7 linked regions of the Homo sapiens genome follow. The protein of the gene in region 5 purifies or fractionates together with the protein of the main gene of each other region. This does not show direct contact. Each region holds a gene or a part of one and is shown on either strand. Other genes may lie near its edges. The genes, in order: GUF1, MAN1A2, SLC12A7, NR2F6, C5AR2, GSTCD and ARL6IP5.

Region 1 (4,010 bases), on a different chromosome or scaffold from region 5:
AATTAGTCGTCTATCAAGTACTGTTTTAATTCATAAAAGTTCCAAGAAAGGGCCAGGCGCGGTGGCTCACGCCTGTAATCGCAACACTTTGGGAGGCCGAGGTGGGCAGATCACGAGGTCAGGAGTTCGAGATCAGCGTGACCAACATGGTGAAACCCCGTCTCTACTAAAAATACAAAAATTAGCCATGATTGCTGGCGCGCGCCTGTAATCCCAGCTACTCAGGAGACTGAGGCAGGAGAATCGCTTGAGCCCAGGAGGCGGAGGTTGCAGTGAGCCGAGATAGCGCTACTGTACTCCAGCCTGGGCGACAGAGCGAGACACCATCTCAGGGGGGAAAAAAAAATCCAAGAAAGAACTGAGTCTGGTACAGAATTCTTGATCCTAAGAAATCCTCCAAATGAAGAAACTTTCAAAGGCTCTGGAAACAATACGAATGATTCTGTCTTCAGTCACAATGATGAACTGAACACAGCTGTCATCTCCCTCCTTCGCACCAAATTCTGGATATTCCAGAAAAGCGCAAGAGAAATAGTGGGAGACAAACACTGGATGCAATCCTCCTATCACCTGTTTTATCCCCCATTCTTACTTCGTCAGAGCTCATTCCATGAAGTGGTAACTTGATGACGATGGAAACATTGGGGGTCCAGCATGGAACTTTTTCCCACCTTTACTTCTTGCCAAAACCTTCCTGGATTCAGTATTGCAATCAATGTTATGGCCCGTTTCCTTTCAGATGCACTTCAAGATTAGCTCTGTCACTGACAACATGGGGAATACATTTCGACCTCCAGATTTTAAAAGTGCCATTATTATTTTGCCATTAGGTAGAAGGCTAAGTCTCAACGTTGTGCTAATAATAGCATCTTTAAGTCCCTGGACTAAGACCTCGGCTCCTGGTTCGGGAATCAGACTGCCTGGGCGGCACTCCAGGCTCCACAGCTCCCCACCTGTGAGCTCCTGGGCAAGTCACTCGGTCCGGATTTCCAGAGGTAGTTTGGGGGAACTGACAGTACACACACCACAGGGCAGTAGTAAGAAAGAGACAATGCAAAGGAATTGGCACAGCACTCAGCAGACAATATAAGCTAATATGTACTCTGTCTACACCCTGCGTTTTAGGGAGTCAATCGAAAGCCTCCACTCACGTGACCACTCCACTACCCGGCGCCAAGACGCGCTGATGTCACGACAGCGTGCGGCGTGCAGACGTCGGCAAGCTGCGCCGCCGCTTCGGGTTGCTTCCGGATCTGGTACTTGGGCAGAGCTCCCCGGGGTTCATTGTCTTCGCTTCACAGGATCTGTTTGAGTCCTGTCCACCGGATCCTACGGGGGGTACCTTCGAAAAAAAACGGGCTATGCTGCTGTTGCGTGTGGGTACCCTCTCCTGACGCCTCCGCCGCCCGGGTCATGTGGACCCTCGTGGGTCGGGGCTGGGGGTGCGCACGCGCTCTCGCGCCACGAGCCACTGGGGCCGCGCTTCTGGTGGCCCCGGGGCCCCGGTCCGCGCCGACCCTTGGGGCTGCTCCAGAGTCCTGGGCTACCGACAGGCTCTACAGCTCCGCAGAATTCAAGGTGACTGCCCCCTGGAATCTGATTTAGCCAAGTTTTCAAACGTTGGAGTGCCCCATGCGATCTTGGACATGTATAGGGCTTTCTGGGACTAGCTCTGAACCCTGCTTGCAACTTGGTACAGGGAGGCAGAGCGGAGAGTGTGAGCACTGCTCAGGTTCCCGACCCTCCACTCCTCACTAGTGTGACCTTGGGCAAGTCACTAACTTTGTAGGTTTTCTCATTTTCAATGTCAAATGTTGATTTGTTTACGCGAGCCACTGGTCGAAGTGCTTTGCGTTTATTCATCTATTTAATTCTAAAAAGCCTACTAAGCAAGTTGCTAGTAAATATTAATATAACGTCCATTTTCCTGCAAATTAAGTAGCTATGTGGCCTGGGCAAGTTACTACATTGTCACTCTCCTACTTCATTTGTTGAATGCAGAACTGATCAAACATCCAGTGGCTAATTTGTGAGATTTGTGTGATGTGAGAAGTGGACTTTTTTAGACTAATACCTAGAATGCAGGAAGTTCTCGGTCTGTCTTTGTAGTTTTATTTCATTCTACCTCAGCCAGAGCAAACCTGTGTAATTTTGACTCTGGTGGGAGAGGGTGGGAGGTTCAACAACTCTGATAATTGTGAATGGATACATTTTAGTCAGAAAAGTGAAGTGACTGAAGGCAAGCTATAAGTAGGCAGAAAGACAAAACCTTAAATTAATCAACTTTGGCCCTAATATGCCTGTGTTTTTAAAAATGGATTTATATTGCAATTCGAAGTATAAAGATGGTGCAATTCTCTATACCTTTTGAACTGAAGGGAAAGAAAATCTACAGGGCAAACATCAGAATTAGTTTTTTTTCGGCAGACTTTCAGCTATAATTGTGCTTTTATTATCTGTCTTTATGGGGCTATTAAAAAACAAAGCTCACGTGAATTTTATATTTCATTGTAATTTCATGGTTTTGCTGATTGTGAAATATGCAGTTGATTGGAAAAAAATAGAGTACAAAAAACTGGTATATTTTGCTTGATAACAATTTCTAGCAATTTGTGATGTGTTTCAGTAAAACGTTAAAGAAGATGTGTACACGAAAAACCAGGAGTTCCATTTTAAAATATTTTTAAGTTTTAAGTGATAAGTCTTTTGTTGGATGTCATCTTTTTTTCTTTCTCACCAGAGAAGCTGCAAAGTAGCAAAATTGTATTTAAAATAAAATTTTGAGGCTCCATTAGAGACACAGATTTTTAAATAAATCTGATTCCTGATTAAATGTGTGATAGGAGCAGAAAATTTATCTTCTTTCAGCTTTTCTGTAGCTCCATTGCCTCAAAAGTTTTACTAGACAAGGTATTCTCAGGCCTTTAGAAGTTCTAGGTGTCTCATGTTCTCCATTCACGATAATAAATTCAGTTCCTGATTGGCCCTAAAAATTGTGTAGAAATGTTAAGGGATTATGATTTAGCTGTATAGTTACCTTTGGCTATTAAACTGATGTTCCTTGTAATATGAACTTAGCCATACATGTCTTTTTCTTAGAATAATAATATAAACAATATAAATGCTAGAAATGATATTGTTCAACGATTAAAAGAATATTCTTTGAATTGGTATACTTGTTTGATAGTATGCCAAATTTATACTCCTAAATGTGGTATTTCCCCTTTCTAGGAAAAACTTGACATGTCTAGGTTTCCTGTTGAAAATATTAGAAATTTCAGTATTGTTGCACACGTGGATCATGGCAAAAGTACTTTAGCTGACAGGCTCCTAGAACTTACAGGTATTTCATTTATGTTACATACTTAACTGATGGCTGCGAGTTATTGGGAATTACTTTTACTCTTAAATTTTAATTTTATAAGTAATATTCTCTTTTTTTTTTAAAGCCCAGAGAAATATCAATAAGTGTTTCTGTTTATAGGGACAATTGATAAAACAAAGAATAATAAGCAGGTTCTTGATAAATTGCAAGTGGAACGAGAAAGAGGAATCACTGTTAAAGCACAGACAGCATCTCTCTTTTACAATTGTGAAGGAAAGCAGTACCTTTTAAATCTCATTGATACACCGGTAAGTTTAATATTAATTTTGCATGTATTGTTAAAGTCAACATTGTGTCAGTAGTGCAAACAGATCCTTGTTTAATTTTTGAACTGAGTATTAAACATCTGCCTTTGCTTTTTGTTTTCTCAGTGTTCTTATGTTAGTGTCAGTTGTTTCAAAAGTGCAGGCTACAAAAAAGAAACGAATATTTAACAGCTTTTATCAAGTAAAGTCAATAAATTTGCCATAATGCTCTTTCCTAAAAAATTAACTCACATTTACAGGTATCAATATTTTTGTTTCTCAGGGCCATGTTGATTTTAGTTATGAAGTATCCAGGTCACTTTCTGCTTGCCAGGGTGTTTTACTTGTGGTTGATGCAAATGAGGTAGGTATTTTTCATT
Region 2 (3,500 bases), on a different chromosome or scaffold from region 5:
TCTAATAAACTTGCTTTCACTTAAAAAAAAAAATCAATTAATGTTTACCATGTACTACTGATTTCTAGAAGATACTTAGCTTCTGCATTACCAACTTTCCAATCTTAGGCATGAGCTCCAATTTGAAAGTATCCATATCGATAAAAATAAGATTCGGTTGGGTGCAGTGGCTAACACCTGTAATCCGAACACTTTGGGAGGCCAAGGTAAAAGGATTACTTGAACACAGGAGTTTGAGACCAGCCTGGGCAACAAGTAAGACCCTATCTCTACAAAAATTAAAACTTAACCTAGCATGGTTGTTCACACCTGTAGTCCCAACTCATGCCCATAGTTTCAGCTACTCAGAAGGCTAAGACAGGAGGATCACTTCAGCATAGGAGTTTGAGACTATAGTGAACTGTAATTGTGCCACTGCACTCCAGCCTGGACCACAGAATGTACCCAAAAAAAAAAAAAAAAAACAAATGCAGCAAAGGCATCTACACCAGTCTGTTGTTGACAAACGTCAAATACAAACAAACCTCACAATAATTCATGTCTGAGTAAAGGGAAGTGGGAAAAATAACCATGAGCAATTTATAAGGGAAATGGAACATCCAGCAGACTTTAATATTAGTGCATAAAACAATGTGACGTCGCCCAAACAGGAGCAGAAAGCCCCAAATAAAAAACAGGATAGAAAAAAAAGGTCCAGAAGAGGGATGAGACAAAGAAAGATGACAAGAAAATTAAAATTGCAATAGTGAGATTTGAAATCTCTACTCTTGTAACAAAACTGAATCAAGCAAAAAAAAAACACGAATCATAACATGAAGAACTTGAGAAACTCACTAAAGCACACTGCAGCCTGGACTAGCCACATTTTAAGTGCAATAGTCATATATAACTAGTGGCTATGGTACTGGACAGCGCACAGGTTTGAGTGATTACGTCTAGCACAATGCCACACAGCTAGTTAGTAGAACTAAGATGCAGCCTTATTTATAACTCCAATGCCTTTGAGGAAAGTATCAAAGGTAAACATATACCTGACCCTCAAGTATTCAATTCAGACTAACAAAGTTCTGACTGGAGGGTGAAACTTATTAGCTATTCAGATAAACAGCTCATAAGCTGGGTTTTTTTTTTTTTAACTCACAAAGCCCATCTATAAATGCCATTATATAAAACAAATGTCAGTTTTAAAAAAAAAAGTTTTTAATTATTGAGATCTATTATGTACACAAAGTATACTTACGTATATTACTTTATGTATATTAGCGTATAACAACATGTATATTATAACAACTTCTGGTTTTGGGTACTGCAAAATCATAGATACTATAAATAACCATAATCAACACCAAACTACACATTTGATATATCCTTATCATCTATAAAGTGTATCTACAGTGTTTGAAAATTCTGGATTATTTATGAACTACTTAATAGAAGGGAACATATTGGTTTCCTCATGAAAATATACTAAATTCATGTAATACCACTATTATCTATAAATTAGGGCATTAATTAAATATAGTATGTATTTCTTACTAATCCATGGCCATGTCACCCAGAAACCTAGACATTATCTTGGACTCACTTTTCTTTCTATTTTGGCCCCATATTTAACCAACCACCATTTTCTGTGAAACTTAATAGTTTAACACCTCTTGACTCAACCACTTTTCTCCACTAATTTATCTCATTCTCCACTATCACCACTGCGATCTAAGCCAATATATCCTCTGTGACCCAGCCCCTCTTAACTTGTTATCCTCCTGCTTCTTACCATCCAGTAAGTAATCATTGCAACCAAAGTGATTATTTAATTTTTTTAATTTAAAATGATCATGTCATTCCCTTGCTTTTATTACAATCCTTCAATAACTTCTCTTAGTATTTATGATAAAAACCAAAATATTTAACTACAAACTCTCTAGAATCCTGACTAGAATTTGCAAACTCAACAACAACCAGGTTAAATATTGATTGATTTGTATTTACTTATTTCGCACTCTGAGTGGCACATGCCCGCCCCCGTCCCCCTCCCAAGGGAGCAGCTGCTACTGGGTTGTGGCTTGAATATTACCATCTGAAAATACACTGGATGTTGCCATAACCTCTAATTTTTCAAGAAAGATCAGAAATCCAGACTTTAACATGAAATCTCCTGATCTGTGAATGCTGACAACTAATTCAAACTTTTGTAACAACAATAAGGAGGCCAAAAAACTTGTAAGCAGGCCAAACCTGACCTCTCATCTAGTCTCATCACCCAGACCCACACCCTCTGCAACAGCCATACTTAACATTTCTCAGATTCTTAGTGATGCCAAGCTTTTTTTCCTTAGGGCTCTCACACATGTTGTGTCTTCTGCTTTGACCCTCAACCTCCCCTCAACCTCCAATTCCACTTCATTAAGCAATCTCCTACTCATTCTACGTTTCTGAGGCACACTTTCTCAATGAAGTCTTCCTTATTCCCACTGCCCCTCCACCCCCAACTCTATAGACTAGGTCACACATTCCTTGCTCTGAAAGCACTGAGTACAACTTCGTAACATTCATCACACCTCAAAAACAAAATTATTTATTTAATGCCCATCATCTCTCCCTAGATTGAAAGTTTCATGAAAGCGGGGCCTGCCACAGTAGGCATACATTTGTTGCCAACCAGTTTGGTTATAAAATGTTCCTTTAGACAATAAGATCCTAGTATACTTCTAAATATTAATCAAACTGTACCCTACTTTTCAGAAAATATACAGTATTTAAAGGAAAGTAGATTCCGAATAAAAATATTCCATTACAATTATAATCACTGATGATAATAATAGTTAACATTTATTGATCATTTACTAAATGCCAGGAACTATGTTGAGTGCTTTGCATGTACTATCTCTTTCAATAAAACAATCTGTAAAGTAGATACATGCCACTGTGATACAAAGGAAACAATATAGAGTTTTAAAATTTCTCAGTATCATAAATCTAATCAGTGGCAAGCTAGGGTATGAATCTATACAGTCTGACTCCAGAACTTAAACACCAAATTATTATACTAATCTATTAATAAAGAAATACTAACTAAACAAGTATCTCTTAAGTACTGCAAATAAGAAATGGTGACCATGACTTATTTTCCATTACTTATTAGTTAAAGTAACATTCCTCAGCCCTCTATCCTGTACCCTTACACACACACACACACACACACACACACACTAAATGAAGATAAACTGTCAATTTGTTTCTTCTAAATTAGGTAAGTTCTGACCCATACCCAAAATACATATGATCTTAGTACCAACTGTAAAAGTGCTATTTTTCTGAATTATTTTTAAATAAGTTAATGTTTATACATTTGATGTTTTCTGTTTCCACATTTTAAACATACACTTAATTTAAAAAGTATTTCCTTGCTCAAAGTAAAAGAAAGTTTATTACTACAGACTCTTTTCTGATATAGTAAACAACAGCAAATAATACGCTAAAGCAAATGTCAACTGATATAA
Region 3 (3,500 bases), on a different chromosome or scaffold from region 5:
ACACGTGGCTGTGGGCCCTCACAGCCGCTCCTGACACACCCGGGGCCGAGCTCGGAGGGACCTGCAGGCAGGAGGGCTAGAATTGCCTCTGCCCACCACCCACCTCCCACCACTCCCATGCTCTGTGCAGTGGCCAGGGGCAGAATGACCACCATGGGGTCCAAGCCGCGGGCATGCGTCCCACACACGGCACTGTGAGGATCCCGCAGGGGAGGAGAGCCCCCGACCCTGACCTTCCAGGGTCCCCCCGACGAGGGTGCGGGACTCACCTGCAGGAAGGGGACGATGCCGTCACGGGCAATGGCCTGCAGTAGGCGCGGTGCCCCCGTGAGGCTCTGCAGGCCGGCACCGCAGGTGGAGAAGAAGGAGCCGATGACGATGACCCAGGGGGAGGGCCAGGCCAGCATGCCGATGACCAGGTTCCCCTGCAGGGCCTCCCCGAACCTGCAGGCAGGCGGGCAGGCGGGCGGGCGGCTTTCAGAAGTGAGCCTGAGTCAGACAAAATGTCTTCTCCCACCCAGAGCGAGGGGCCCAGTGCAGTGGGGGCGACTCCTTGGAAAGCTGAGGCCCGGCCTCCAGTCCCCGTTGGCTGAAACCTCCACCAGGCTCTGCCCAGCATGGCCAGAATGCTCTGGAGGGTCTTCAGCGGGGGAGGGGGTCCTGCTCACCTCAGGGTCGCTCTTGGGAGCAGGGAAGACCCAGCCTGGCATCAGCTTCAGTCAGGGACCACCCAGGACCCCCGGGGCCTTGGGGCTGCCAGACACGCACACCCCATGAGGATGCAGGGTCAGTGATGACCTGCCTGGGACCCCACTACTTCTCCACTTGCCAGCAGGGCTGAGGGATCTCCCAGGGCCAAGCCTCACCCGTCCACACCCCTGTGGCCTCCCCAGGAAGGGCCTGCGCCCCCAGCCGCATCAGGGCTTGGAGTTGGCTCTGAACGGTTCCCCAGGCCCTAGGCTCCAGCGGAAGAGACGACACATCAGACCAAGGGATCCCAACCCTGGGACCAGGACGCCTTCAGCTCTGCACGCGGACATGAAGTCCTAGGGCGATGTAATTTCAAAGCCGAATTCATCCTCAGGAAAACCCTTGAAGACTACAGGCTTTGCACGAAAACTGCAGGTGGAAACGTACTTATCTCGTAAGACCACGCCTTCAATGCAGGCCCCAAACAGCACAATGCAGGAGAGATCCACAGCCCTCGTCAAGGAAAGGCAGGTCCGTGGGTGCAGGGTCCTCAGGTACGGGGGGTGGGGTGGGGTGGGGTGGGGTGGGTGGGGAGATGCACTGGCCAGCGGGCCGCAGGATCCAGGTGGGCGGGGACCGTTCTGCATCCCATCCCATCCCGGGCACGTCCTGTCCCCCGTGTCCTCAGCGCACCCTCCTGGGGCTCTGTCCAGCGCCACAGAACGGGGCCCTGGGGTGGTGGACACACACCTGGCCTGGTGCTTGACCGCCAGGGATTGGCAGGGGACCATGCTGAGGGGACAATGCTCGGCTGGAAAGAGGCAGCCTTGGGATTGAGAAGCCAGAGGCCCCGCGGGCCCAGCCTGCCGGCGGCACACCCCACACACCGCTGCGCATCACTGTCCACACGCGGCAGGGTGACTGCTTCTGTTTTCTCTACGATCGCATCACACAGTGGTGAAGAAGCCAGGGTCCTGACAGCAGCCCTTGCCCCGTCTCCCAGGGAGGATGACGTGGTGAGAGCACAGCCTAACCTGGGAAGTCACATGCTGGTGGCCGAGGGTATGATGCTGAGCCGGGGAGGGCATGGGGGCCTCCCCCCAGGCAGAGGCTGGAACCCTCGCCTGCACCCCTCCAAGGATACAGATGAAAGACGTCGTCACTATGGCCAGGATGGTCCCCGTGGGGATGGACTTCTGTGCATCCTTGAGGTCCCCGGACCGGTTTGAACCCGCCATGATACCTGTGAACATGGAAAATGCTGCAAAGACCCATCTGAGGAGTCAGTGCCATGTGATGGCAGCCCCTGCCCAGAAAGCTGGAAAGGCGGTCTCTGGGGAGACCCCGAGCGTGAGCTGCAGCCGAGGCTGCAGTCCAAGCTCCGCCAGCCCACGCTGCAATACTGCGGCTGAGGGGATGCGGGCCCAGGCACGCGGATGAGCACCCACGTCTACTGCTCCCCTGGATCCGAGGACGAGAACCGACCCCGTCACTGACCCCCACGCCCCCCACACCCAGGGCTTCTCTGGAGCCTGTGTTAATCCCATGGCCAAGGGTCAGCCCAGAGACGGTGCTGAGCAATGGCTCACAGGCCCCCAGGACCTAAGGACTTTGGGAATGAGATCCTAGAACGACTCAGCCCAGCCAGCCAGGCCAGCAGACGCTGCGACCCCTCCCGCTGTGGCACCACCTTGCTCTAGGGAGCCACGGCCGGGGATGTTTCCACACAATCGGCTCCTACAAAGCTCTGGGAAGCCGGGTCGGTGGGGGCCACTTCACGCCTGGCTCGGTCCCATCCAAGGCGCAGCCTGAAGCACCCATTGCTCGGGGTGGCCTGGGAGGCAGCAGAGCCCACAATCCAGTGCCGCGGAGACACCCGGAGCCACGCAGAGGCTCTGCCCCCACGCCCTCCACCCGCGGCTCAGAGACACCCGGAGCCACGCAGAGGCTCTACCCCCACGCCCTCCACCCGCGGCGCGGAGACACCAGGAGCCACGCAGAGGCTCTGCCCCCACGCCCTCCACCCACGGCGCGGAGACACCAGGAGCCACGCAGAGGCTCTGCCCCCACGCCCTCCACCCACGGCGCGGAGCGCACTCAGACGGACGGGGGAGGCTGGAGCGGAGGTACAGGGAGAGGACCCCCGGCAGATCACCCCCTCCATAGCAAGACGGGCCCACCTTCAGTGGAGGCAAGGGAAACACGAGAAGCCAGCGCTGTGGCCAGGCCCTGCAGCTGACCCTGGGCTCCAGGGCTTTCGGATGTGCTGAGATGAAGTCCGGGAGCAGACGTGGGAGGGACCAGAAGGGACCAGAAGGGCAGCTGCAGGCTGCACAAGCAGCCAGCGCCTGTCAGGGGCGTCCCGACAAGAAGGCCGAGTGGAGACAGCCGGGGGCGTGTGTGTGCGACTCGAAGAGCACGGGGCCTGGCCCCACCCCCTGGGGAACAACCAAGGGCCCCACCCACCGCCGGAACAAGGCCCACTGTTTGAGGAGGACACAGAGGGCCGAGGTCCCCGGCCTCTGAGCTCACACTGAGGCCACTCCTAGGTGTCTCCTAACAGCCTGCCAGGTGTTCCCAGCAACCCTACAACAGCTTCTCCTGACACAGGGCTGCCTGGGAGAGCAGCAGACAGGCTTCTCACAAATCCATCAGGACGCAGGGCAGAGACCTCAGCCACTTCCCCTGAGCCAAACAGGCAAGATAAGCAGGGGCAGGAAGGAACACACTACAGAGAGAGAGACAGAGAGAGAGACAGACAGACAGACAGAGAGAGAGAGAGGGAGGGAGGGAAGAAGAGGGAGACAGAG
Region 4 (3,500 bases), about 30 Mb from region 5:
CAGCTGCGCGATCAGTTCGGACACCGGCTGCCCCGGGAAGAGGTCTCCGCCGCTCGCCACTGCCGCCAGCGCCGAGCCCGGGGGGCTGCCCGAGGAGGCGGCCACGGCACCAGGCAGCGAGTGCGGGATGCGGCCGCGCTGCACCGCTGCGGGAGGCGGGGACAGGAGGGACATGGGGGCGGGAGGGGAGGCGGGGGGGGGGGGGGCGGGCAGCAGGAAACGGGGGAGGGACAGGAGATGGGGGAGGGGAGGGCGGGGCACAGAAGGCCGGGAGGAGAGGAGATTGGAGAGACAGGAAGGGAAGCGAGGGGTAGAGAGGAGAGGGCCGGAAGAGGGGGGATGAGGGGCCAAGTAGGTGCCCATAGAGACATGGGGTGGGGGGCAGGTGGGGGGGGGCAGGTAGGGAGAATAACGGGAAAGGGAGACAAAAGTCATCAAGGGGTCACTCAGGCCCTCCCCTCCAAAGCCTCCAGGCCCAGCCTTTCCCAGAATGCCCAACCCCACCCCATGGGCGCCAGGCTGGTTAGAAAGTAAGAGTCCAGGAGTCCCTGTCTAGGTCCAGCCACCACCCCCCACCCCCAGCTCCTGGGGACAAGGAGGAGCATCTAATAAACCTTTTGGAGCCTCCTAACAGATAGTCATGGGGTTCCCAGAGCTGAGGATGGGCCATGGAGGACTTGGGGACCCTGGCCAGCTTGGTCCCCAAAGCAACAGATCAATACCCACCCAGCACTGGCTCTCTCCTATGGAACAGGGATCATTTCTCTACCTTCCATCCCCCTCCCCACCAGATGGTGACCCCTGAGGGCCGGTCTGGGTCCCTGCAGAGGCTACAGTGCAGGGAAGGGTTGGGGGGGACCTACAGTAAGGAGGGGTCCCAGGGGGGCTGCCATAGGTCCTCAGTAAACATTAGCCGCCATCAGTAGCCTTGCTTATGAAGCGGGGAGGCCCTGCTGCTGGCTTGGGCACGTCTGCAGTGACCAGGTGGGTGAGAAAAGGGAAACTGAGGCATGAAGAGGAAGAGAGTTGGCCATGTGCCTGCCTGGCTTGTGCCGGGGTGGGCGGGATGGCAGGGCTGACTGGGCTGGTTGCCAGCAGACTAATTAATGAGCTTTAATGAGCTGGCATGCCCCATCTCATCACCTCCGTGAACTCCAGGTCAACTCTGTGTAGAGCAAACACCGGAGGGGAACGCGAGCAGAAGCCAGGGGCGAACAGAGCTAAGCGGAGAAGCCAGGGCATGGGTTGAAGCCCGCTCCAAGGGGTCCCTGAGTCTGAGTCAACTGTCAAATGGGGATAGGTGGATGGGGCCCAAAAGTGGTTCCCCGGTCCTCCAGGAAGCTTCCTCCCGCTTTGTTCACTGGGTTGTGAGCAACCACCACTCCCTCACATGGCCACATTCCCACCCCAGGGCCTTTGAACTTTTTCTTTTTCTTTTTTCCCTCCCTCCCTCCCTTCTTTCCTTTCCTTTCTTCCTCTCTCTCTCTCTCCCTCTCTCTCTCTCTCTTTTTGAGATAGAGTTCTGCTCTGTCACCAGGCTGGAGTGCAGTGGCACAATCTCAGCTCACTGCAGCCTCCGACTCCGGGGTTCGAGTGATTCTCCTGCCTCAGCCTCCCGAGTAGCTGGGATTAGAGGCACCTGCCACCACGCCTGGCTAATTTTTGTATTTTTAGTAGAGACGGGGTTTCACCATGTTGGCCAGGATGGTCTCAATCTCCTGACCTCGTGATCTGCCCACCTCGGCCTCCCAAAGTGCTGGGATTACAGGCGTGAGCCCCCACGCCTGGCCGGCCTTTGCACTTTCTGTTCACTCTTCCTCAAACCCCTCCCCAGCTCTTCAGCCCAGACTGTGGAGGTTCAAATCCCAATCACAACTCTGTTGCTCTCTGACAAATGGCCTCACCAATCTGCTGTGTGCCTCAGTTTCCTCATCTGTAAAATGCAGACAGTGGCTCCCATTTGCAAGCCTAGCACTTTGGGAGGCTGAGGCAGGAAGATCGCTTGAGCCCAGGAGTTTGAGACCAGCCTGGGCAACATAGCGAGACCCCGTCTCTACAAAAAATTAAGAAATTAGCCCAGCATGGTAGCGAACACCTGTAATCTCAGCTACTCAGGAGGCTGAGGTGGGAGAATCACTTCAACCCAGGAGTTTAAGGCTGCAGTGAGCTATGATCGCACCACTGCACTCCAGACAGAGTGAGACCCCGTCTCAAAAACGATGTCACCAATCACTGAATTAAATGAGAATCTATACCTTAAAATAATGCCTGCCACACAGGAAAGGTAATTACATGGTAATTCAAGCCAAGGACCATTTATTGAACACCTACTGTGTACCAAGCCCTGGTCTAGGCGCTGGGGAACAAGACAGACAAAAATACCTGCCCACAGGGAATGGACATTCTGGGTGTAAGCAAATTACAGAACAAGACAGGTGGCGTCAAATACAGGGGGATCAGGAGGGCTTCCCTGAGGAGGTGATGTTTGAGCAAACCTTGAAGGCAAGGTTAGGGAGGGAGCCATGTATGGACCTGGAAAAAGTGCACTCCAGGCAGAGGGAAGAGCCCGTGCAAAGGACCCGAGGCAGGTGTGCTTAAAGCATGAGCTGTCATCATAAATATTTCCACCCGAGGCTTTTGGAGACTTCTGGCGAGGCTGTTTGCTCTGAGGCCATGACTTGAGATATATGAGGATTTTAGGTAAAATAGACAAGTAGAGGCAAAATCCATGTTATGGGGGCAGGGACAAGAAAGTTACCCCCAAACTTAAAAGGGCCACAGGGAGTGATCAGTTTTAAAAGAAAGCCCCTCAGCTGCCTCTCTCAGCTTCTCCCACCAAGGCCTAGACCAAAAAACAACAGCTTTACGCCAAGTATGGTGGCTCATTCCTGTAATCCCAGTAGTTTGGGAGGCCAAGGTGGGAGGGTCGCTTCAAGCTAGGAGTTCGAGACCAGCCTGGGCAACATAGTGGGACTCTGTCTCTAGAAAATAAAAAAAGCTGCCGGGTGGGGTGGCTCATGCCTATAATCCGAGCACTTTGGGAGGCTGAGGCGAGCGGATCACCTGGGGTCAGGAGTTGGAGACTCCAGCCTGGCCAACACGGTGAAACACCATCTCTATTAAAAATACAAAAATTAGGCCAGGCGCGGTGACTCACGCCTGTAATCCCAACACTTTGGGAGGCCGAGGCGGGCAGATCACGAGATCAGGAGATCGAGACCATCCTGGCCAACATAGTGAAACTCCATCTCTATTAAAAATACAAAAATTAGCTGGGCGTGGTGGCATGTGCCTGTAATCCCAGCTACTCAGGAGGCTGAGGCAGGAGAATCGCTTGAACCAGGGAGTCAGAGGTTGCAGTGAGCCGAGATGGCACCACAGCACTCCAGCCTGGCAACAGAGCGAGACTCTGTCTCAAAAACAAAACAAAACAAAATACAAAAATTAGGTGGGCGTGCCGGGCGCGGTGGCTTACGCCTGTAATCCCAGCACTTTGGGAG
Region 5 (4,079 bases):
AGTCTCACTCTGTCGCCCAGGCTGGAGTGCAATGGTGAGATCTCGGCTCACTGGAACCTCCGCCTCCTCGGTTCAAATGATTCTCCTGCCTCGGCCTCCCGAGTAGCTGGGATTACAGGCACGCACCACCACGCCCAGCTAATTTTTGTATTTTTAGTAGAGATGGTGTTCTGCCATGTTGGCCAGGCTGGTCTTGAACACTTGACTTCAAGTGATCCACCTGCCTCGGCCTCCCAAAGTGCTGGGATTACAGATGTGAGCTACCGCGCCCAGCCAGTTCTGTGCGTTTTAAATGTATCCAACGCTCATAGCAAACATCCACTGCACAGATGAGGAAGTTGAGGTTCAGAGGGGCTGAGGCCCTGAACTTTGATGAGGGTGTGTCGACCTGGAATATGAATCTCATCATTCTGGCCCTTGAGTTCTTGTTCTCAGCCACTGTGATATGCTGGAAGAGGTTAAGAATTGCTATCACGGCTGTGGCTCACTTCTGTAATCCCAGCCCTTTGGGAGGTCGAGGTGTGAGGATGGCTTGAGGCTGGGCAACACAGCAAGGCCGCACCTCTACAGAAAATTTTAAAAAATTAGCCAGGTATGTTGGTGCATGCCTGTAGTCCTAGCTACTCAGGAGGCTGAGGTGGGAGGATCACTTGAGCCTAGGAGTTTGAGGCTGCAGTGAGGCATAATGTTTTCACTGCACGCCAGTCTGAGCGACAGAGCAAGACTCCATCTCTAAAAAAAGTAAAGCATCGCTATGGCCAACAACATCTTCCCATTCTACAGATGGAAAATTGAGGCCCAAGAAAGGAGTTGTTTGTGCTTTTTCTACCACTGAGGCGTTGGGCCCTGCGCTCAGCTGCTGTGGTCTTTTTGTGGAGAATGTGACCCCAGGCTGTCTTCCTCAGAGCCGAGGAGGAGGGAGGGATGTTTGTCTGTCCTGAGGCTGCAGAAGGGAGGGGTTGAACACAGTTAGAGGCCTGGAGGTGGCTGGGGGCAGCTGGCATGTTGTGGGCAAACAGAATCCAGGCCAAGACCTCTAAGGCGTTAAAGAGCAAACCGCATGCAGGTCTGGCTTCCAGGAAGGTGGGACTTCGAGACTAGGGTTGGGGACTTGGGATCAGCCCTCCACCCAACCGAGCCCTCTCCTGCCCTGCCAGCCACCCCGTAATTTTGGGTTCTGTGAGTCACGGGAAGAAGACAGGACAAACACACCCTGAGAGCGAGACAAGGCCACTCCTATTTTGTACTGCTTATAAAGATTCACTGGGACTGGTGAGGTGGCAGTGCTCAGCAGCATCCGACAGGAGCCCTGGCAAACAGGACGGATTTCCAGGACTCTACCAGCTGCCAGACACGGCAGGGAGAGACCCCAGACCTCCTGGGTCCTGGCTGTGGGCCCGGATTGGGCTCCCAAGTGGCGTTTGACTCACGTGGGGACACTCTTGGAAGAGACGGTAAGGATGGAGGCTACAAGGGCGGGAAGGAGGGAGAGAGAGATTGCATGATCTTGGCTTCTCGGAATCATTACTTTCAGAATCTGGGAAGCAGAACTAGAGTTTGAGAAGTGCAGTCTTATTACAGCCACACTGGAACGCACGTCACAGTCCTGGGCTCTTGAATTAACTTGGGCAGCCCAGCAGCAAAGCTCTTGTCAAAGGATCTAAGCATTTTTTTTCTTTCTCTTTTTGGAGACAGGTTTTCATTCTTGTTGCCCAGGCTGGAGTGCAATGGTGCCATCTTGGCTCACCGCAACCTCCACCTCCCAGGTTCAAGGGATTCTCTTGTCTCAGCTGGGATTACAAGCGCATGCCACCATGCCTGGCTAATTTTGTATTTTTAGTAGAGATGGGGTTTCTCCATGTTGGTCAGGCTGGTCTCGAACTCCCGACCTCAGGTGATCTGTCCGCCTTGGCCTCCCAAAGTGCTGGGATTACAGGCGTGAGCCACTGTGCCCTGCCCAAATGGTTTTTCACACACAGATGTATGGGAAACAGCCTCTCTCAAACCTGCAGGAATTCCTGCAGCTTTCGGCAGATCCACCAAACTGTAGCATGTGTAGCAAGCAAGCCCTTTAACTCAGCGATTCCAATTCTTTTCTCTTTCTTTCCTTTTCTCTCTTTCTTTCTTTTGACAGGGTCTCACTCTGTCTCCCAGGCTGGAGTGCAGTGGTGCGATCTTGGCTCACTGCAACCTCCGCCTCCCAGGTTCAAGTGATTCTCCTGCCCCAGCCTGCTGAGTAGCTGGGATTACAGGTGCACGCCACCACACCTAGCTAATTTTTGTATTTTTAGTAGAGATGGGGTTTCACCATGTTGGCCAGGCTGGTCTCCAACTTTTGACCTCAGGTGATCCACCTACCTTGGCCTCCCAAAGTGCTGGGATTACAGGCGTGAATCACCGTGCCTGGCCCCCTCAATGTTCTATCACAAAATCTGTCCACATTCTTGTGTGGTGTTTGTTCATTCTCATCGTGTAGAATATTCCACAGGGTGAACACCCCATGATGTGTTTATCCATTCTGCTGTGGGTGGCTATTTGGACGGTTTCTCATCTTGGGCTGCTGTGAACATTCTGGCACATGTATTCTGGTGAGCATATGTGTTCTTTTGCGGAAAGGAGGCTGATTGCTGGGTCGTGAGGGAGGAATCCTAGAAGATGGATGTTCAGGAATAAAGAATGTTCAGACTCCTTTTTTTTTTTTTTTTTTTTGAGATGGAGTCTTGCTCAGGCTGGAGTGCAGTGGTGCGATCTCGGCTCACTGCAACCTCCGCCTCCTGGGTTCACGCCATTCTCCTGCCTCAGCCTCCTGAGTAGCTGGGACTACAGGCGCCCGCCACCGCGCCCAGCTAATTTTTTGTATTTTTTAGTAGAGATGGGGTTTCACCATGTTAGCCAGGATGGTCTCGATCTCCTGACCTCGTGATCCACCTGCCTGGGCCTCCCAAAGTGCCGGGGATTACAGGTGTGAGCCACTGCGCCCGGCCAGCCTTCTTTGATTCTGCTCCAGGGTTTTCCAGAGCAGAGAACCCAGCAAGACTGGATGCACAGACAGGCGTGCACCAAGAGGCACATGTGAGGGTGCTTGCAATCACAACAAAAGAAACCTAAGTGACCACTTAGTCTCTCTGTGCCTCAGTTTACTCTTTTATCCTTTCACTTACCAAATATCGACCATGCCTGTGCTGTGTGCCAGGTTCTGTCCCAGATGCCAGGGACACAGCGGCACCCGAGGCTGGAAGGAGCTGATGTTGTGGGATATGAGGATGATAATATTGACCTCAAGGGTTTGTGTTGAGGGTTATATCTTGTAGGTCATAGGTGCTCAATAAAAGCCATCTATTATTTTAATTATTATGAAATAATAAGAAGGGTACCTATGATTTAAAAGCTAGATATAAGTACAGACGCTCTTTGACTTACAATGGGGTCCCATCTCTATCAACCCATCGTAAGGCTGGGCACAGTGGCTCACGCCTGTAATGGCAGCACTTTTGGGAGGCTGAGGTGGGAGGATTTCTTGAGCCCAGGAGTTTGAGATCAGCCTGGGCAACAGAGTAAGGGCTGTCCATACAGAAAAAAAAAAAAAAATTAGCTGGGCATGATGGCGTGCACCCGTAGTCCCAGCTACTCCAGAGGCTGAGGCAGGAGGATCAGTTGAGCCTAGGAGGTAGAGGCTGTGGTGAGCCGAGGTTGAACCACTGAACTCAGCTTGGGTGACTGAACAAGACGAAAACACAAAACAAAAGCCCCCAACATTTTCAACATAAGTTGAAAATATTGTAAATCAAATTGGATTTAATACACCTAGCTTACTGAACATCATAGCCTACTTTTTTTTTTTGAGACAGGGTCTCACTCTGTTGTCCAGGCTGGAGTGCAGTGGCGCGATCTTGGCTCACTGCAGCCTTGACCTCACGGGCGTAGCCTACCTCAAATGTGTTCAGAACATTTACATTACCCAACAGCAAGACAAAATCATCTAAGCCAAATCCAATTTTTTTTTTTTTGAGATGGAGTCTCACTCTGTCACCCATGCTGGAGTGCAGTGGTGTGATCTCAGCTGACTGCAACCTCCACCT
Region 6 (3,500 bases), on a different chromosome or scaffold from region 5:
ATAAGCAGGGCTTCCAAAGCATTGCTATTTGAGCTCCTATTTATATGTAAACATTCCATTTAAAAATCAACATAACTAAAATAAAGAAAAAAGAGTTATTTTCTAAAAATGTCTCCAAACTTTATAAATTAAGACTTAAATTCTTATTTTTCAATACTGCACTGAAATATTGACACACGTAAAGGGTATATTAGCCCATTTGCATTGCTGTAAAGGAATAGGTGAGGCTGAGTAATTTATAAAGGAAAGAGGTTTATTTGGCTCATGGTTCTGCAGGCTATATAAGAAGCATCTGCTTCTGATCAGGACCTCAGGAAGCTTTTAGTCATGGTAGAAGGCAAAGGGAGTGCAGGCATGTCACATGGGGAGAGAGGGTGCAAGAGAGAGCAAGGAAGAGGTACCAGGCGCTTTTCAACAGCTAGATCTCTCATGAACTAATAGAGCAAGAACTCACTCATTACCCCAGTGAGAGCACCAAGCCATTTACGAGGCATCTGCCCCCACGACCCAAACACCTCCTACCAGGTCCCACCTCCAACAACATTGGGGATCACATTTCAACATGAAATTTGGAGGGGATAAATATTCAAACTATATCAAAGGGCTACTTTATTTCATTGGTTACTGGGGTTTTTTAAAATAAATAAACTTTTATTCCTAATAGGAAGTTAAAATATTAAATGGTCAGGTAATTATGTTATCACTGTGTAGCTTCAAATAACAGAAAAAAGACATTATACTTACTTCAGCACAGGCTTTCAAGCAAGTCTTTTTAAAGCCCAGAAGTTCCAAAAGTTCCTTCTTTAAGGGGTCTGCTTCATAGGATTTCTGGATTATGTGTCTCAATACAACAGCAAGTCCTGCTCTACAAAAATTGTCTGATCGTTCTACTACTGCAGGCAAACAGCAATTTTGGACTATTGGTGGGAGCTCCTGCCTTGAAATAATCTGTATTTCAACATCCTGGATCAGGTCATCTCTTAGTAGTGAACTATCTCTACTCACCTCTTTGGTGACAACTAAGCAAATTTTAAAGATTTTACAGTCACAGTAAGATAACAGAAATAAAGTTACAGATGTATGAAGAGGAAAGATGCATCCTTCTGTTTGGTGAGAAAAGTCCAGGTACAGGTATTCTTCTTCTGTAAGACTTTTCTTTATGGCTTTCATTTTCTTCTTTCATTGGGTCACCTAAAGTATAAATTGAAGTGATTATGGTCTTAGAATATAATCATTTAGAAGCTAAAATAAAAGATGAATGTTTCAAAAGCCTGTTCTAGAAATCAGTAAAAATTTGCAGTAGATAATAATGCTATAAGGTTTGTTTCTGAAGACTGACTAAATGACTTCCAAAAGAAAAAAATTCCACCCTGTGCAATTAACTAGCATTAGAGGAAATATTACACCCAGCTCCTTTAAAATGAGCAAACCCCAGTGCTTTGCAATAGAGCCCTCCCAATCAAGTATTTTGGGGTCTCACTATATGTGAGAACAGGAGATAAATAGAAGGGGAAATAAATTAACCAAAAATACTGAGAGCTGTCTGGGGATAATATCCTTGAGAAGTTTTGACAGTGCTGGTCCTTCCATACTGCTTCTTTTTTACGACCCTACAAAATAATAGGGAGGGGATATTCGTTCTTTCAGGAGAAGTGGATTCTCCTCAAGTAAGTGATAGCTGCTGAGTGCTGAATCATAATATAAAAATATTTAAATTTCCCCATAACATGGATACTGATAGCTATCTTAAAGTTAACCTGTCCAAAATCCAGTTCCTTATTCTCTCCCACCCCTCAAACCTGCTCCTTATGTGTCTTCCCATCTCAGGTTACACCATTCTTTTCCTTCACACCCCCATAACCAAACCCTCCAAGGTCTTCCCACCCTCCTTAGAGAAAAGCCAAAGTTTCTGCAACAGCCTACAAAAATCTCCTTGATCTAATCCTCCTTTATGTCTCAGAGTTTGTCTCATTAACTTTCTTCATTGCTCACTGCTCCAGCCAAAGTAGATTGTTATTCCTCTAAAACAGCCATCTCCAACATTCTTGGCACCACGGACCAGTTTCATGAAAGACAGTTTTTCCATGGGAGGTTGGTGGGGGGATGGGGATGGTTTCCAGATGAAACTGTTTCACCTCAGATCATCAGGCATTAGATTCTCATAAGGAGAGTGCAACCTAGATCCCTCCTGCGTGCAGTTAAGAGGGTTGGAGCTCCTATGAGAATCTGATGCCGCTGCTGATCTGACAGGAGGCGCCATTCAGGCAGTAATGCTGGCTCACCTGCCACTCACCTCCCACTTTGAGGTGGGGTTCCTAACAGGCCACAGATGGATACTAGTCCTGGGCCCAGGGGTTGGGGACCCTTGCTAAAACACTAGGTACATTCTCACATCAGGGCCTTTGCATTTGGTGTTTCCAGTACCTAGAACACTTCCTCACTTCCTTCAGGTATTTATTTATTCAATGGCAACTTCTTACTGAGATCCTCCCTGACTACTCAATTTAAATCACAAACCCCAATCCCCACGCTCCCTGAAAAAAACCTTTCTATTTCCATCTATGTTTTTTCTTCCTAGCGCTTATTGCTATGGTGATATACTATATGTTATTATTTGTCTCCTCTAACTAGAATGTTCCATGAGTAAAAATTTTTTGTTCACTGCTTTATAGGTTTATTATATATATAAGCAAGCAGTATTTGACAAATGAAAGCAGAGATAAATATACATACTGGTTAAAGGTGCAAACACACACAGTCTTGAGGTCAGATTCTTCATGGCTATTTTCAAGTCATATTCCTTAAGGTTTTTATCAATTGTCCTGTCTTTTTATGTTTATACATTTCCCGGGTCAAAAATTCCTAATGTTCTAATACATAAATTACAATTCCAAAACTGACACTAGATGGCACTCTTTAAAAGTATTCACCATGGAAATACGTACCAGAAACATGACATATTAGAAGGAAAATTACTTTAAAAGCTGTTAAAAAGTACACATGCACCTCTTGTCTTTTAAGTGTATTCAAAATGTTAGTGTACACTTAATTTTAGAAAACCTTCATCATACTAAATTTTCTTTAATATTTTAAATCCCTTTTTTAAAAAAATCTGAAACAAGACCTAAACACTTTAAGCTTCTTAGTTCTTCATTTTTTAAAACTAAGGAACTTGTAATCCATTATAAAAAATAAATATAGTCAGTAAAGTATTATCTAAGTTTCTTAATAATACAAATAATCACTACTGCTTTATTTTATATTTCTTCTATTAAAATATAACAGATATATACCATGATTTGTTACTTCTTAAAAGATTATCTGGGGGAAAATTATTTTATATACTGTAAAAGCAACAACTTTTTAACTTACAGATGCCATTTTCTCCCTGAGCTTATTTTTTAAAAATTTTTGTCACTGAGAGATAATTTTAAAACAAAAAGGTATTTATTAAAGATCAAAGTTCAAAGAGTTTTTTTATAAAGCTGAATAGAGCTCTG
Region 7 (2,328 bases), on a different chromosome or scaffold from region 5:
AAGAAAAGATGATCCAATTTCATAGCTTATGGCCTCAATACACAGGTTTTGCCAAAAGAGGTGAAGCAGTTCACATTATGCTTTTTCTACCACCCAACCCTAAAGATCTTAGTTGCAGATTTTAGCTTGTTTTTAAATGTAATCATAATTTACAACATTTATATGTTACATTTTTCTGTTATTACCCTTCCAGAATTGACTACTGGCCATTAGTAATTACAGGTATCTTTTTTTTTATTAGTTTCTCCAAATTTATTGGATTTTATCGGCAGAATTCACCTTGTAGAAAATGGAATGGGCTAACATGTATATAAAACTGGGCTAACATGTATATAAAACTCGTGCCAGGTTTAAAAATAGGATCCCACTGGAATTGTTTTATTCTGGCTGCAAGTTAATAAAGTATTCAAGCTTTACTAAACAGTATTTGAAACAGCTGAAGTGTTTGCTTCACTGTTTATAGGGTCGTCGCCAAGTTTCTCAGGTATTTAAGACAGATGTGCATTAAATAAAGTCTCACCAAAAAAACCTTTAATCAATTTTATTCTTCATATGTGGGTAAGGGTACAGATTCTAGACCATGTCTGTGAAGTCATGGTGATATCACTGTGCTAAAGATCATGGCTGTAGGTTGGCTGAGAATTTAAAATGCAAGAAAAATCAGAAGCAGCACATCATTGCTTCTTATTCTAGGACATACAGAGAGTTTCTTCAGTAAGTACCACTCCAGTTGTCTTCACAATTTAATGCTACAGAAACCTAAATGTTTCTACTTCAGCTACGAAATCATTCAATTGGCAGGCAAAACATTTTTTATTACCTATTTATAAAAACATGAGAAAGGGAGGAAAAATAATAGAATGTATAAACTCATGCTATCATAATTCTAATGTCTAGCTATAAAGGCATATGGTTGTAACAATTGCTATCTAAAATTTTTTATTAGCTGCAGTAGCTGCATTCCATTTTCATTACCATTTTTTAAAGTCTTTTTGCTTGGTCATCTAAAGACGTTTTTCAAATTTCAAAAGATCAGCTATTATTGTCCTCCTTGTGCCCCTAAGGAATTAATAAAATGCACATTCATTTCCTTCTTTCTAAATGTTCCAGTTAAAAACGAAACAATGCAAAAATGGCAAACATTTTCTTGGACCATTTTTTTCACTGTAACAACAAAAAATGTGCAAGGTAAATAGAACTCAAGTTTTGTTTTATTTTTTGTCTGTTTGTATTTTAATAAGTCCGTCCAGAATAATACAGGTTACATAGCTGTAACCATCTTAAGGAAAATGACATTAAGTTTGCAACAAATACTTGCTGGTGAAAACACATTACTAGCATTTCAAAAATTTACAAAAATGTAACAAAATATCCTAAACAGCTATCTTTATATTTGTAAAGGAAGTATGAACAACTGGCTTAACCAGTTTCCACTGCACATCAAACAGGTGGCAAAGTGATAGAGATCATCTTTGATTTTTAAGAGAATAATAAAAACTAATTTATATCCCACACATTACAATTCTAGGGGATTAGGAACAGGCTAACACATGATGTCATCTACTTTAACAGCCTTTTCATTTACTCGTATTGTCTTGATACTTTACAATGATTTTTTTTTTCCTATAAGATAATCGTATTGTTGCTGTAAAAGCCGTAATTCTTTTATTTTTTTTAATTCCCTTAAAGAAATCGTGTGATCCATTTCCCATTAGATTTCATAAACACACGTGAAACTTCAGACACAATAGGAGGGTGGTGGTTTTCTTTCGGTTTCTGAGGTCTTCTCTCTGAAACATCAGAGCTGATAATAGTTCGGCCTATACATGCATGCTGCCATAGATAATTGGGTGGTACGTGCACCTCCTGTTTCAAAAACGCAAGCAGAACATAGGTCTGGACAAGGGCAAGCTGCAACTCAATTTCTGCTGCAACCCTAGCTCAGGTAAGTTATGTTTATTCCTTCACTTTGCTGATATAGTCAGTGAGTCTGTTGATGCCTTCTTCCTGCTGTTCTAGGGCATCCAGGACAATGCCCATCGGTGTCCTCTTCAAACCTATTCCTTCCATTTTATTCTCCAGTTTGTTCTTGAGGTTCCGAAGTCTCAACGATGCATGGATAAACATCACTGCAGAGAAGGGACACCTGGTTAACACCAAAGCAACAATTCTCTTTTGCCATATCAATATTACACTCCCTCTCTTCACACTATTAGTAAACTGCCTTAGTTAGCCACAGTCCAGTCTGCTTCTCGAATTGATGCAAGCTTTCAAATGGCTCCTTGGACTTTATGTAAAGCTCTCCATCAAGTCATACATAGTTTTTTT

Evidence for each region.
Region 1: the proteins of C5AR2 (region 5) and GUF1 purify together in Homo sapiens (affinity purification with mass spectrometry; 2 studies listed by BioGRID and IntAct, with this or other methods). This does not show direct contact.
Region 2: the proteins of C5AR2 (region 5) and MAN1A2 purify together in Homo sapiens (affinity purification with mass spectrometry; 2 studies listed by BioGRID and IntAct, with this or other methods). This does not show direct contact.
Region 3: the proteins of C5AR2 (region 5) and SLC12A7 purify together in Homo sapiens (affinity purification with mass spectrometry; 2 studies listed by BioGRID and IntAct, with this or other methods). This does not show direct contact.
Region 4: the proteins of C5AR2 (region 5) and NR2F6 purify together in Homo sapiens (affinity purification with mass spectrometry; 2 studies listed by BioGRID and IntAct, with this or other methods). This does not show direct contact.
Region 6: the proteins of C5AR2 (region 5) and GSTCD purify together in Homo sapiens (affinity purification with mass spectrometry; 2 studies listed by BioGRID and IntAct, with this or other methods). This does not show direct contact.
Region 7: the proteins of C5AR2 (region 5) and ARL6IP5 purify together in Homo sapiens (affinity purification with mass spectrometry; 2 studies listed by BioGRID and IntAct, with this or other methods). This does not show direct contact.

What each region holds. Positions count from the first base shown.
Region 1 is NC_000004.12:44,677,210-44,681,219, forward strand, and holds the start of GUF1 (translation factor GUF1, mitochondrial), read left to right. Parts: upstream 1-1,210; 5' UTR 1,211-1,361; coding exon of another isoform or gene 1,362-1,376; 5' UTR 1,377-1,413; coding exon 1,414-1,578; intron 1,579-3,231; coding exon 3,232-3,343; intron 3,344-3,484; coding exon 3,485-3,633; intron 3,634-3,913; coding exon 3,914-3,994; intron 3,995-4,010. UniProt on the Homo sapiens protein: Promotes mitochondrial protein synthesis. May act as a fidelity factor of the translation reaction, by catalyzing a one-codon backward translocation of tRNAs on improperly translocated ribosomes. Binds to mitochondrial ribosomes in a GTP-dependent manner.
Region 2 is NC_000001.11:117,370,449-117,373,948, reverse strand, and holds part of MAN1A2 (mannosyl-oligosaccharide 1,2-alpha-mannosidase IB), read right to left. Parts: intron 1-3,500. UniProt on the Homo sapiens protein: Involved in the maturation of Asn-linked oligosaccharides. Progressively trim alpha-1,2-linked mannose residues from Man(9)GlcNAc(2) to produce Man(5)GlcNAc(2).
Region 3 is NC_000005.10:1,077,564-1,081,063, forward strand, and holds part of SLC12A7 (solute carrier family 12 member 7), read right to left. Parts: intron 1,934-3,500; coding exon 1,835-1,933; intron 1,196-1,834; coding exon 1,138-1,195; intron 445-1,137; coding exon 270-444; intron 1-269. UniProt on the Homo sapiens protein: Mediates electroneutral potassium-chloride cotransport when activated by cell swelling. May mediate K(+) uptake into Deiters' cells in the cochlea and contribute to K(+) recycling in the inner ear.
Region 4 is NC_000019.10:17,235,920-17,239,419, forward strand, and holds part of NR2F6 (nuclear receptor subfamily 2 group F member 6), read right to left. Parts: intron 147-3,500; coding exon 1-146. UniProt on the Homo sapiens protein: Transcription factor predominantly involved in transcriptional repression.
Region 5 is NC_000019.10:47,330,896-47,334,974, forward strand, and holds the start of C5AR2 (C5a anaphylatoxin chemotactic receptor 2), read left to right. Parts: upstream 1-1,279; 5' UTR 1,280-1,454; intron 1,455-4,079.
Region 6 is NC_000004.12:105,715,284-105,718,783, reverse strand, and holds part of GSTCD (glutathione S-transferase C-terminal domain-containing protein), read right to left. Parts: intron 1,192-3,500; 5' UTR 1,171-1,191; coding exon 745-1,170; intron 1-744.
Region 7 is NC_000003.12:69,104,265-69,106,592, reverse strand, and holds the end of ARL6IP5 (PRA1 family protein 3), read right to left. Parts: intron 2,130-2,328; coding exon 1,957-2,129; 3' UTR 501-1,956; downstream 1-500. UniProt on the Homo sapiens protein: Regulates intracellular concentrations of taurine and glutamate. Negatively modulates SLC1A1/EAAC1 glutamate transport activity by decreasing its affinity for glutamate in a PKC activity-dependent manner.